Regions from separate parts of the Homo sapiens genome. Here region 2 is linked to region 1. The links come from fine-mapping of genetic effects on gene expression. A gene starts in region 1. The other region holds a variant in brackets. All regions are shown on one strand. Distances are between the middles of the regions. Region 1 holds the start of PCNX1 (pecanex 1). Region 2 has its middle 25 kb from the start of PCNX1.

Region 1 (2,911 bases):
GCCTTGAGAAATGAACTTCCAAAGTTCAGTGCATGCAGTTAGCATGACTGCTGGTTTTAGAGTTCTCAACCACTTATTGCTTATGAGCAATAAGTGGCCATAAGCATTTGGCCAATCACTTACTTGAGTTTACAGGTTTTCTCATCCATAAAATAACAATAGCTGCTATGCTGCCCTCAAAGGGTTGTCCTGAGGTCTGAATGGAATGGGTGTGATAGTGTCTGAGCAACTATAAAGTGGTATGGCACTGGGAGGTATTGTAACGGTTTTTCATTACTCTTCTTAAAATATCACCAGTTTCCTTTGGCTCTTGTTTCCCTCATTAATTATAGCAACTGTAATCTGGGAATACACAGTACTTTTATTGCCATAAAAGCCAAACTTCAATAAACTCAAATTTCAAACTTTTCTATAAAATTTTATTCAGTGAGATCAGACACGCCTTATAAACATTACACAGAGCCAAGAATGATTCCGTTTTTACAGCTATAAAAAGAGATCTACAAGACCCTATTGTAATTTGGGGTGGCGTCACGGTTAATCTTTTTCAACCCTGTTTAGATTGGCCCATTAATAAAAATGGCTGCTAGTTACAGCACATTTAAAAATACAATCACCGCGTACAAATGGTAACCTGTCCACTCCATACTTCCATGTCCTGTGCCGCTTCTATTAACTTGTCTTTGGAAGTAGTAAATTCTCCCAGTCTGGACGTGGCTATTTTTTCTCACACACGGGCCAACACAGTTCTTGCTCAACTTGGGTGCGTTTATGACTTTTCAACAGTGTCATCAGCCGTACCTAACTCTTCCAGGCCTTCAGTATCTCAGGTGTTAGCTTCAGTTGTTCCTAGGTCTTTCACAAATATCATAAATGACAGGCAGGACGCTTTTCTGGAGTCAAGATCTGTTAGTTTCGGAGTCAGAAAGACCCCGTTTAGAGACTCGTAGGCGAACTTGCCAGGGGGCCTACCAGGGGCAGAATGGGGTCCTCCGGACCAGCCAGCCGCGTCTCAGCCACCTCCGCAGCCCCCGGGGCCCTGAACCCCGGCCGCGTTGACGCGCGCTTCTCCCGGACGTCGGCAGGAGGCGCCCGCGGCGGACCAGGCGCGGCGCGCACCGTAGCCGGCCCAGGGGGCGGAGGGAGCGGAGAGGAGGAGCTGGAGGGGGCGCGGCTTCCTCTCGGTCGCTCCCTGGCGCCGGGCCTCTTTCTCTGCCTGGCCCAGGGCTGGCGGCCGGCGGGGGTCGCGGCGGCGGCAGTGGGGGCGCTGGCGGGCCGCGGGTGGCGGGGGCCGGGCCGCGGCTCCGGGTGTTAGGAGACAAGATGGCGGCGGCTCTCAGAAGGCCGGTCTCCTCCTCTCCGCCGTCCTCCGCCCCGCCGCTCGCCGCCTCCTCCTCTCGGGTCTCCTCCTCCTCGTTTGCTGCCTCCTCCTCCTCCTGCAGCAGCACCAGCGACCGCCGAAGCGCCGGCTCGCTCACCCGGAGCTCCGGAGGTGGATAGACGGGGCAGCTGCAGGCTCCGGCGACCGAGGCCGAGCTGGGGCCGGGGCGGGGACGGCGGCGGCGGCGGCGGCGACGGCGGCGGCGCCGGGTGGGGATGGGGTCGCAGACGCTGCAGATCCTCCGACAGGGGGTGTGGGCCGCGCTCAGCGGGGGCTGGTACTACGACCCGCACCAGGCCACCTTCGTGAACGCGCTGCACCTCTACCTGTGGCTCTTTCTGCTGGGCCTGCCCTTCACCCTCTACATGGTGAGTGTGGGGGCGGGGAGCGGGTGGCTCCTTCCCCGCGAGCCGGTGGGGAGATGCTGGGGTCGCGCCCTCTTCCTCTTCCACGGGGTCTCGTCCCCCGGGGGCCGCCACCCTCTCGGTGTGAGGCTCCCCGCCCCCACTGCGTGCTCCCACTCCTCTCTTCGGGGCTTTCCTGGTTTCGGAGGTGACACGAGCAACGAGCCCACGGCAACCCGCGCCGGCCGCCCCCGCCCGCTCACTGGGAAGCGGCAGCGTCCTAGGCCCCTTCTCGGGGTTCCCTCCTGCGGCCACTCGGCTAGGCCGTCCCCGCCGGGGCCCCCCGCCCGTGGGGCTGTGTGGCAGGCGCCGAGCGCTCTGCGGCTTTAGGGGACGCCGCATCCATCCTTGGCACGCTGGGTTCCTCGGGCGCCCGGCATCCGGCACTGCCCGCCCCCGCCGCGGCCCTCGTCCGGGGCTCCCGGGAGAGGCCGCCCGCCGCCTCGCCGCTAATCCGCGTGCGGAGCCCCGGGAGCGCGGGGGACCGTGCGGCTCTGCTCCGAGTGTGTGTGGGGGTCGTCCGGGCTCGTCCTCCAGGGGTCCTGGGTGGTGGCTGAAAACCCGGCTCGGAACCCTCCTGCCTCTAAAAAACCGTTGTTGTGCTTCGCAGCGGTTCTTCTCTGTTCGGCCCCGTGGCCGGTGGCCGTGGTGCTTCCTGGCCTCCCTGGGGGGAGGGAGCGGGGAGATAACGGGGAATCTGGCTGGCATTTCAGCAGATTTGTTTGGCTTGGTTCAAGGCCTTTGGCGGATAGGAGTAGGGAGAGAGAGTACTGCCTGTTGCTGAATTCGGTGCGATCAGCTTCTCTGAATCATCTGTGTTTTTAAAGCAACATTGAAAGTTGTTAAGCGCAGTTTCTAAAGCACAGGTTAGGGTGGGGCGTTAGGGAAACTCGTGTGGACAGAGATGTTACTTAAGGCTTCATATAAAATTTTAAAGTAGTCAGAGGGGAGGAAAGGATCTGAACTTTTTATTTTAGGAGAATTCCTTTGAATGTATTTCTGCTAACTTTGAGGTTCTTTGTGGAGCTAGAGACAGGGTGCTGAGTTAGAAAATCCCGGAGGACCACTATGAGAAGTGCAAAAGGTGAGGACACCCAATTCTTCCCTAAGTGAAGTTCAGTTTCAC
Region 2 (2,911 bases), 25 kb before region 1:
AGCCTCCAGACATGTCAGAAAATAAATTTTTGTTGTTTAAGCCACCCAATCCATAACATAGACTGGGTATTATGTCACCCAGTGCCATAACATGTTATGCTATGGCAGCCTAAGCTGACTTAGATAGTAACCATCATTATGTGACATAAAAGGAGCATAGTAAAGAGAGCACATAATTCTAGAAGGGGTGGAGGTTGGAGAGAAATTAAGTTGAGAAGAGGAGAACAAGATGTCAGGAAAGTCTTCCCATATGAGATACTTCTAGCAATTGAGTCTAGTCTAGAGGAACAGGCAGTTATTCTCTAAATGGTCTCTAAGAAGAGCTGGGGGCCTTAAAAACAAGGGACGTAGCAGTAATCTTTTTTATAGGCTGTGAATTGCTGTGGAACCTATAGCTTCAAACCTATTTGTTTTCCATGAACTCTATAATGATGTCATGGTCTATGCCTTCTTCATGTACAAACATCATACAGTTAACCCACCACCATGATAGCATGTACTTTCTGTTGTCGTGTTGTTTCCTAGTAAGGTGATTGATTTGCATTGCTTCAACCGGGCTCCTCTGATTGATCATTTTCTAAACAATGGATGCATTTACAGATGGTTGCCAGGTTCAGCAGAGGAGGCTGTAGCCATCAAATAGATAAAGTAGGCTCACCACATTCTGGAATTGAAACCGTGATCTTGGTTACATCAGAAGGTGCTCTAACCAATTGAACAAACCAGGCCTCGATGAAGCAACTGAGAGCTGGGGGATTCTTATGCAGAACAGAGCATTCATACTTCCGCTTCCATATGTACCACATATGTGTTCCTCTCAACTGGTTTTGTACATTTCCATTGCCTTAAATGTATTCACATAGCACTCTTTAAATACTCGAAGTATAATGAAGAAAAGAGAAGGAACTGAAATGGTTCCATTCCATTTCTCACTAGGAAGTTGATTCTGTGCACTCTATTTCTGACTATTTTCTATCAGCCTATCACTGTGGGATGTAGGAGGGAGGAACAGGACACAAAATGTGGCATAATTAAAAAAAGATGAAGAAGAAAATTAAAATCATTAACCATTAGTAATCATTTTTAATGTGCATCATTTTTAAAATTCGAGAATAACCCAAGGAGGTAGGCATAATGTTTAGACATGATTTACCAGTGAAAAGAAGCTTAGAGAAATGAAGTAACGGCTGGAAAGTCACAGCTAGAACTCAAAGTGAGAATTCCCACCCAAGAAATCTAACTCCAGATTCTACACTCCTAATCTCCGCTATGTTGCTTTCCTGAAATGAGGAAAGAATAAGAAAGGAGAAAATTAGTGACAGGAAAGAGAGAGCTGAATAAGAGGGGACAAAGAAAGGAGGAAGGAAATCAAGCAGTTTCTACACTCTGGAAAATAACGGAGCAGAATTAACAGAAGAGAACTACTTTCCTCAATGCTCATTCTACTGTTAAAAAAAAAATAAGCCAGGCAGTGCAGCACACGCCTATAATCCCAGTGACTAAGGAGGCTGATGTAGGAGGATTGCTTGAGCCCAGGAGTTTGAAGCTAACCTGGGCAACAGAGCAAGACCTTGTCTCTAAAAAAAATTTTTTTTAAGTAGCTGCATTGTCTTGTTTTTCTAACTTTGTACAGTGCTTAGAGTAACACTATCTAAACAGCATGTGTTCCATAAACCCTGTTGACTAACCGCTGGATTTGCACAAGAAACACCGGAAGAC[T/C]CTTAGGCAAGAGATATATTGTAAGATCCGTGACAATGAGATCTCTTGGATGACATGTTTTTCATTGTTTACTGCGTGTCTAAAATGAGAAGGTCCTAAGAGCCAACCTTTCATTGGAGTGGCCCCCATAAAACTGTCTGCTGTGTAAGGGGTGTTGGAGTGACTCTCCATCACAGGTTCTACTGCAGCTCTAGGGTGGGTCCTGAGTGATGTGAACCCCACCCCCATCCCCGTTGCTAGTGAATGGGTCTGGGGTAGGCAGGCCAAGGCCAATTGGGACCAATGAGTCATAAAGAGTTTTCTAAACACTTCCGGAAAATATGCTTTCTTACCCTTAAGAAAGAGTCACAGGAAGTTAGTAGGAGGTGAAAAGGGAAGCAATTAACCCAGCAACTACTGGAAGCCTTCCAAAACCCAGGGATCTTTCCCCAGAATGAAGTCAGCATTGGGGATAGCACAGCAGAGAGATGCAAAGAGCCACTGGATCCACCAGTCCTGAATCCTACCCAGCCTTTGACATCCTGCATTGGAGCCAATACATTTCTTTATGATAAAAGCTAGTTTGAGGTTGAGTCAGGATTTCTGTCCCATATTTTAAAGTATCCTACTGATGCAGCCTGGTAAACATAAAACATGGTAAACACATGTGGCCTGATTTTATTGGCAGCATGGTTAACTGGTTCAAGCTATGGTTCAAGCTATTCTTTCCCTTCTGTGATTATGACCATACGCTCTCATGAAAGGTGAAGCCTTTCTCCTGCCATGGCTACCTGGCTAAAAAAGCTCAGCCAGAGTCTCAATTCCTATAACCTCCTTCCCATCCATCCATTCATCCATCCATCTATCCATCCATCCATCCATCCATCCATCCATCCATCCAGCTGATGGATTAATAAATTTATATCAAGCACTTACTCTGAGCAAGGCATTTTGCTAGGCACTGTAAGGCCATCAAAAAGGAAAAAATAGGCCGGGCGCGGTGGCTCACGCTTATAATCCCACCACTTTGGGAGGCCGAGGTGGGTGGATCACCTGAGGTCAGGAGCTCGAGACAAGCCTGACCAATATGGTGAAACCCCGTCTCTACTAAAAATACAAAAATTAGCTGGGCTTGGTGCCGTGCACCTGTAGTCCCAGCTATTCGGGAGGCTGGGGCAGGAGAATTGCTTGAACCCAGGAGGCAGTGAGCCGA

The links.
Region 2: its variant is fine-mapped to the expression of PCNX1 in whole blood (TOPMed, PIP above 0.99).

The regions. Positions count from the first base shown.
Region 1 is chr14:70,906,255-70,909,165 of GRCh38, forward strand. PCNX1 (pecanex 1) reads left to right here and starts at 1,205. Exons shown (of 36, transcript NM_014982.3): 1 at 1,205-1,749. The coding sequence starts at 1,597. RefSeq lists silencers at 1,108-1,297, 1,518-1,857, 2,018-2,357.
Region 2 is chr14:70,881,265-70,884,175 of GRCh38, forward strand. No RefSeq gene overlaps it. Among named protein-coding and RNA genes, the nearest start is that of PCNX1, 25 kb to the right of the region's middle. The variant T/C (reference allele first, on the strand shown) is at 1,720.